Linked DNA regions of Homo sapiens. The protein of the gene in region 1 interacts with the protein of each later gene in a biochemical or structural test. Each region holds a gene or a part of one and is shown on either strand. Other genes may lie near its edges. The genes, in order: LPIN1 and BTRC.

Region 1 (3,818 bases):
AGTTATGTCTTTCCTTGGGATTCAAACAAACAGACAGATTTTTAAAATACCTCCCGGCTTTAAGGCTTATTTGTCTGAGGTTTGTGGCTGCGGCAGCAGGGCCCCTCCCTGCAGGCTTGACTACAAGGCCGCGGTGCACTGGAACCAAACCCACTCTCACACTCCCTGAGCGGCCAGGCCGAGTTCCATCTGCGCGCCTCCCCCAGACCGACCTCCACACACAGTGCTCCTCCCAAGCAGGCAGAGCTTACGCACAGACACTCGCAAACGAAAGGGAAAAAGAACTGAGCTGCTCCCGCTGTGTGGCCCCAGCCTCTGAAGACATTTCAGATGACTGTCCCAGTTCTGAATGACAAGCATCTACTTGGCTCAGAAATAGCTATACCAAGTTCAGCGCCAGAGAAATGTGAGCTTCCTGGGGGAGGAGATTTACTCTCTCACAGGAACAACCCCGCCTCCAGTCCAGGTGTAAAATGTCAACATCCCCTGGCAATGAGTAAAGTCTGCAGAGCTCCACCCTAGGCCAAGCCATGGGCGAGGTGTGCATTTTAACCCTAGAGCCTCAGTCAATGCAATGACCGCAGAGGCCACCTAGCCAAACCCTCTCAGATGCTGGAGTCCCTCTTTCCATGCGTGCATGGCAAGACCTGCCACTTTCCCATTCCTGGACAGCGTCTCATTGGTTCAAAGTTCTTTTTGATCCTGATATGGTTTGGCTGTGTCCCCACCCAAATCTCATCTTGAATTCCCACGTGTTGTGGGAGGGACTCAGTGGAAGTTAACTGAATCATGGAGGCAGGTCTTTCCCATGCTGTCCCTGTGATAAAGTCGCATGAGATCTGATGGTTTTATAAGGGGGAGTTTCCCTGCACGAGCTCTCTTTCTGCCTGCTGCCATCCATGTAAGACATGACTTGATCCTCCTTGCCTCCTTTGACCATGATTGTGAGGTCTCCCCTTTTTTTTTTAATTTTTTTTTTTTTAGATGGAGTCTCACTCTGTCACCCAGGCTGGAGGGCAGTGGCATGATCTTGGCTCACTGCAACCTCCGTCTCCTGGGTTCAAGTGATTCTTCTGCCTTAGCCTTCCAAGTAGTTGGATTACAGGTGCAAGCTGCCATGCCTGGCTAATTTTTTTTTTTTTTTTTTTTTTTTGGCATTTCTAGTAGAGACAGGGTTTCACCATGTTGGTCAGGCTGGTCTTGAACTCCTGACCTCAGGTGATCCACCCACCTCGGCCTCCCAAAGTGCTGGGATTATAGGCATGAGCCATCGTGCCCAGCCTAAATCCTTTCTCCTGTATAAATTACCCAGCCTTGGGTCCATGTCTTTATTAACAGCATGAAAACAGACTATAACACAGATCCTAAATAGAAACCCAGTAGGTCCTCTCCAGCCTGGGGAATGAGAGGGGAGTGGGAACGAGACATTGTCACAGTCAGCCACTTAGAACAGTGGAGGTGGCAGAAACCGCAAGGAAGGGTTAAGAAAGGAATCAAGTTCCTGCTGTTTTTCTGCCAATCAGGAAGCAGCCTGGCACTGCCTCGCCTTCTGCAGGAGGGAACAGGGCCTTGGCTCCAGCCTCCCCTCTCTCTGCACAAACCTTGAGGACTGCTTGGGTACTGGCATGACTGCAGGGTGAGAGGAGTCTTGTGGGGCAGCCCCAGGACTCCTGTTAGCCTAGAACTGCCCTATTGACACTCAGTTAGAATCCAACTAGTTTAAGGACCATCTTGAAAGTAAAAATCTGCCCTAGAGAGAACTTATCTCTCTATCTAAAACCACAGAAGCTACATGGAGAAAACCAATCCTTAGGAATCTCCTAGAACCAAACTCCCCCAGTCTAACTCCTCCAGATAAAGAGGAACCCCTCGGGCTATCTGGGGCCACTAAGGCCAGAGGCTCTTTTGTTTTTTGAGACAGAGTCTAGCTCTGTCGCCCAGGCTGGAGTGCAATGGCACGATCTGGGCTCACAGCAACCTCTGCCTCCCGAGTTCAAGTGATTCTCCTGTCTCAGCCTCCTGAGTAGCTGGGATTACAGGCATGCACCACCACACCTGGCTAATTTTTCTATTTTTAGGAGAGACGGGGTTTCTCCATGTTGGTCAGGCTGGTCTCGAACTCCTGACCTCAGGTGATCCACCCACCTCAGCCTCCCAAAGTGCTGGGATTACAGGCATGAGCCACCGTGCCTGGCCTGCCAGAGGCTCTTTTCCAGGTCTGCACAGACCAGACCAGAAGAGGTGTAGTCTCTGAAATGGACAAGGCAGGAAGACAAGGGTCGGCCTGGGCTGATGTCACCCAGTGGGCCAACCTCCCAACAACATGGAATGAGGAAATGCTCTCCATCCTAATAAGTTAGGAACCCGAGGGGGACAGGATAAAGTCAAGAGTGATTCTAAGCACACAAGGATGCCTCATTAGAAAGAGTAATCCCATTTAGCCCACCGACTCAGAAAAACTGGGCTTTGACCAAAAATATGAAGGGAATTCTTAACAATTACACAGCAATGTCTCTGGTAAGAAACATTTGGTATGTGAAGAGATATACAGTTCCTCATCTTTAAATATAACTTCACATATTTCAGTTTGGTTATATTTCTCATTCACATTCTAGGCTTTCAAACCTAACTTGGCAAATCTAAACTACTAGTTTTCAAATTCATTCAATTCCATTCTGTAGCAGACTCTAACCACGAGTTTAAATTTTAGACCCAGAAGGGATCTGATTTAATTCCAGTTGTCTAAAAATTATGTTTTGGACAAAATACAAGGAGTTAAAATACATTTTTTCATTATAAGAATTACAGATTAACATATAGGCAGCAAAGGGGAAAAGGTACACCGCAAACTGGGAAGCACCGTTTTAAGATAATAGTACTGATATCATAATCACATAAAATGTGTACAATACTCACGAAGAGATGTTGGTCTTTGCATGTTCCTGTACCAGCTCTCCTTTAGGGTTGACGGTAAATATTCTATTCAAAGACACTCCTACTTGCTTGTATGAATACACATCCTATATTTGGTAAAGGTGATTTAAAGTGTTCATTAGAAAAGAGTTCATTGTAAAAACAAGTCCATGGTATTTCTGATTTGATGAGATATCAAATTTTCATTAACCAGAGCTCTACCTCAAAGTGGTGCAGTGAAAGAATATCCTTTGATGGGAAACTATTCAATTAGTTTTGCTCTCTGGGCCTCAATTCCCTCATCTGTTCAAGGACTGAGTTGAAGAAAAGACAACCTACCACGTCCCCGCAATTCTAACATTCCTTCAGGTTATTCTTTGACCCATATTCCTACTTCATGAAAATCTCTCGTAACTTTCAAAAGTAGGACTTTCTGATGGAGCAGTTAGTACCCAACTACATTCTCTAGAATACTTAGCTTTCCAGTAAATGCGGGCAATACATGCAAAATCTCAAAGCGCTTCTTTCATGATACGAGACAACACTAGACACTTAAAACGTGAGATGCTGAATTCGCCATTATGGTTAGGACTGATTTTGCGGTTCCCTTCTGGTAGAAAGAAACTAATCCGATTAAATGTTCTTGCTTTACTGCTTTAATGAGTAATTTGAAATTTGGAGTTTTAAGTCCCATATCTCAAGCTTTGACCCACCCGCCAACCTTCAAAGAACCCTGGAAGCCATAAGATAATTTGTAATCCCCTTGCCTTTAGATGTGGGCAAGTGGCTCTTCACCAGGCTACTGCTTCTGGGATGAGAATCTGACTCTACATATGGTTCTCGGATAGGGCTTTCAGATGACAGCAACCAGAAAAGGCAGTCATTTCAAGGGTTCTTCTATACCC
Region 2 (3,818 bases), on another chromosome or scaffold:
CTGGGATTACAGGCACCTGCCATCATCCCTGACTAATTTTTGTATTTTTGTAGACGGGGTTTCACCATGTTGGCCAGGCTATTCTTGAACTCCTGACCTCAGGTGATCCGACCGCCTCGGCCTCCCAAAGTGCTGGGATTATAGGCATTAGCTACCGCGTCTGGCCTCTAGAGATGGGATCTTGCTTGCTCTGTTGCCAGGTTGGCCTTGAACTCAGGCTAGGGTTAAGTGATCTTTGTGCCTCGGCCTCTCCAGTAGCTGGGACTACAGGTGCGTGCCACCACTCGCAGCCTAAAATACTTTTTAAATCTCACCTACTTTCTAGCAGTATTTTATTTTATTTGGGCGCAGCTCTGCCATCAGTAGGCTGAGCTCCCTGCAGCCTCAAACTCCTGGGCTGAAGCAATGCCTCTGCCTCAGCCTCCTGAGTAGCTGGGACTACAGGTTTGTGCCACCACACCTGGCTATATTTTTATTTTTTTGTAGAGATGGGGTCTTGCTGTGTTGCCCAGGCTGGTCTGGAACTCCTGGCCTCAAGTTATTCTCCTGCATCAGCCTTCCAAATTGCTGGGATTACAGGCTTGAGCCACCATGCCCAGCTTTAGCAATTTTTTTTTTTTGAGACGGAGTCTCGCTCTATTGCCCAAGCTGGAGTGCAGTGGTGCGATCTCAGCTCACTGCAACCTCAGCTTCCTGGGTTCAAACAGTTCTCCTGCCTCAGCCTCCCAAATAGCTGGGATTACAGGCACGTGTCACCACACCTGGCTAATTTTTTGTATTTTTAGTAGAGATGGGGTTTCACCGTGTTAGCCAGGATGGTCTCGATCTCCTGACCTTGTGATCCAACCGCCTCAGCCTCCCTAAGTGCTGGGATTACAGGCATGTGCCACCGCACCTGGCCAGCAATATTTTAATATAGCACAGAAGTCCTTTCTAAATGTGTATAGTGAGAATCCATTGAGGATGAAATAGAAAATATTTACCAAAGTTTAACAACTTAGTCAATAAAAATAAAACTTTCTCTTTCCGTAATAAGTCAATCTCAGCATTCTAAAATAGGCAATGGAGGGGGGAAGAAATCTCTATGGGAAGGGTCCACTGGATCTTAACAGTTTCAACTAGTGTTCCACAATATTTCTGCTGTACTTGGGGAGAATTTCTGGATAATTAGAATAGTCTGAGGCTTATTCCTTTTAGTTTCCCATAGCCTGATTGAGATAGAGCTATAAGACCAGCTATAACATTGTACAGAAGACTCAGAGATAAACAAGTGAAAAAGATAACTGAGATTAATGTTGAACTAAGAATATGATTGTTCTCTGAGGCACTACCTGCTAGTTCCTGGATTACCTTTATATGTGGCCAAGGTGGGGATTGGGAAGCAAGGGAGCAAAAGCCCTAGAGCTAAGGGAGAGAGAATTTCTGCCTGCCTAAGATGAACCTTCTGAGTTGGATATTTTTTTTTCTTCCCCCTTGAGACGGAGTCTCACTCTGTCGCCAGACTGGAGTGCAGTGGCATGATCTCAGCTCACTGCAACCCCCGACTCCCTGGTTCAAATGATTTTCCTGCCTCAGCCTCCCGAGTAGCTGGGATTACAGGCACGTACCACCACACCCAGCTCATTTTTGTGTTTTTAGTAGGGATGGGGTTTCACCATGTTGGCCAGGACAGTCTCGATCTCCTCCTTGTGATTCGCCCGCCTTGGCCTCCCAAAGTGCTGGGATTACAGCTGTGAGCCACCGTGCCCGGCCTTGAGTTGGAATTTCTTTCTAAAGTCTTGCTCCTTTCTGTAGTTTGGCTTTCCTTTCAGGGTATCTGATTTTGCCTTCCTGCTCCTAGGCTTGTGACCTGACCTGATGCTGTCAATTACAGGAGAATGCAGAGGTGCAAGAAATTTTTTTTTTTTTGAGATGGAGTTTCGCTCTTGTTGCCCAGGTTGGGGTGCAATGGCACAATCTCGGCTCACAGCAACCTCCGCCTCCCGGGTTCAAGCTATTCTCCTGCCTCAGCCTCCCGAGTAGCTGGGATTACAGGCATGCGGCACCACACCCAGCTAATTTTGTATTTTTAGTAGAGACGGAGTTTTTCCATGTTGGTCAGGCTGGTCTTGAACTCCCGACCTTAGGTGATCCGCCCGCCTCTGCCTCCCAAAGTGCTGGGATTACAGGTGTGAGCCACCACGCCCGGCCAGAAGAAATTTTTTGTGTTTTGTTAATACAGTCAGCCACGAATAGCTAACAGCTAACAGCTGGTCCCTCATATTTGTGGGTTCCATATCTGCTAATTCAACCATTGATTGAAAATATTCAGAAAAAGAGACCACAATAAAAAATAACAATATAACAATAAAAGTGGGAATTAAAAACAATACGTATAACAACTACTTACATAACATTTACATTGCATTATTATATGTAATCTAGAGATGATTTGAAATATATGGGAGGATGTGTGTAGGTTATGTGCCGTTTAAGGCACTATAAGAGACTTTTGAGTATCTGTGGATTTTGGTATCCGATGGGAGGATCCTGGAACCAGTTCCCTGCAGCTATGGAGGTTTGACTATAATTATTTAGCATGTACTATTTGCTGTTCTAAATATACTGTTCTAAGCTCTTTATATATATTATTTCATTTAATCCTCCCAGTAATCCTGTGAGATAGATTCAGTATTATTATTATCCCCATTTCTCATTTAAGGAAAATTATTCCAGAGAGGTTAAGTAACTTGCTCAAAGTCATGCTAGCAGGTATCCTGAGATTAAATCCAGGCAGTCTGACTTGAGAGCCTTACTTACGTGCAGTATACTTCCTCTTTGAAGAGCAGGAAAACTGTGGGATATGGTGGCATGTTTCCTTAATATCTGTTAAGGCACACTTTGGTAAATGCTAAAATAGAAGCACAAAGTGCTATAGAATTTAAGGGAGGGGAAGTTCGTTTTTGTTTTTGTTTTTGTTTTTTCTTTTTTTTGAGATGGAGTCTTACTCTGTCACCCAGGCTGGAGTGCAGTAGCGCAATCTCAGCTCACTGCCACCTCCACCTCCCGGGTTCAAGTGATTCTCCTGCCTCAGCCTCCCGAGTAGCTGGGACTACAGGTGTGCACCACCACGCCCGGCTAAGTTTTGTATTTTTTAGTAGTGCTGGGATTACAGGTGTGAGCCACTGTGCCTGGCCGGGAAGTTCGTTTTAACTGAAGAGCTCTTTAGCAGCTTTGTAGAAGAAAGCTTCATATTAGATCTTGATGAATAGATAGATTTTGACAGATATCTCTCTGAGGTAGGCAGTCAAGCGGTGGCCAGAGTGGAAGAATTACTGTCCAGATTTACATATAGGTTTCCTGATTATTTAAATTACCGATGAAGTGCAGTAAGACTCTACTGTTGTCACAGTATCATTTCAGTTAGCTATTGGCGTTTAGAATCACAAAATACCAGCATCTTACAGTGATAGGTATTTATTCTCTTGAAATTGTGGGTTTGCTGGGTAGTGGATGATCTAAACTTGGCTTACTCAAAGTCAAAAGCCCAAAGTCAAGCAGGGCAGGGAGTAACTTGCACAATACTATAGTGACAGTAATCTACTGCAGTGATCTAGTACAGTTGATTTAGAGAAGAATGGTAAGATGCTTATTATGACAACTATTGTGCTTTCTTCTTTCTGCTCTCTATTGTTGACACTCTCCTGATAGCACTTTTTCATTTTGGTTGCTGAATAATACCTGTTGATTGGATACTCCTAGAATCATAATGTAATACAGCAGATTTCTTCTCTTCATGTTATGTAGAAAAAAAGCATAAAGAAATAATCAGAATCTTG

The links.
Region 2: the proteins of LPIN1 (region 1) and BTRC form a complex in vitro, tested with the Homo sapiens proteins (one study listed by BioGRID).

The regions. Positions count from the first base shown.
Region 1 is NC_000002.12:11,819,613-11,823,430, reverse strand, and holds part of LPIN1 (phosphatidate phosphatase LPIN1), read right to left. Parts: exon of another isoform or gene 3,681-3,818; intron 3,021-3,680; coding exon 2,917-3,020; intron 1-2,916. UniProt on the Homo sapiens protein: Acts as a magnesium-dependent phosphatidate phosphatase enzyme which catalyzes the conversion of phosphatidic acid to diacylglycerol during triglyceride, phosphatidylcholine and phosphatidylethanolamine biosynthesis and therefore controls the metabolism of fatty acids at different levels.
Region 2 is NC_000010.11:101,360,505-101,364,322, forward strand, and holds part of BTRC (F-box/WD repeat-containing protein 1A), read left to right. Parts: intron 1-3,818. UniProt on the Homo sapiens protein: Substrate recognition component of a SCF (SKP1-CUL1-F-box protein) E3 ubiquitin-protein ligase complex which mediates the ubiquitination and subsequent proteasomal degradation of target proteins. Recognizes and binds to phosphorylated target proteins.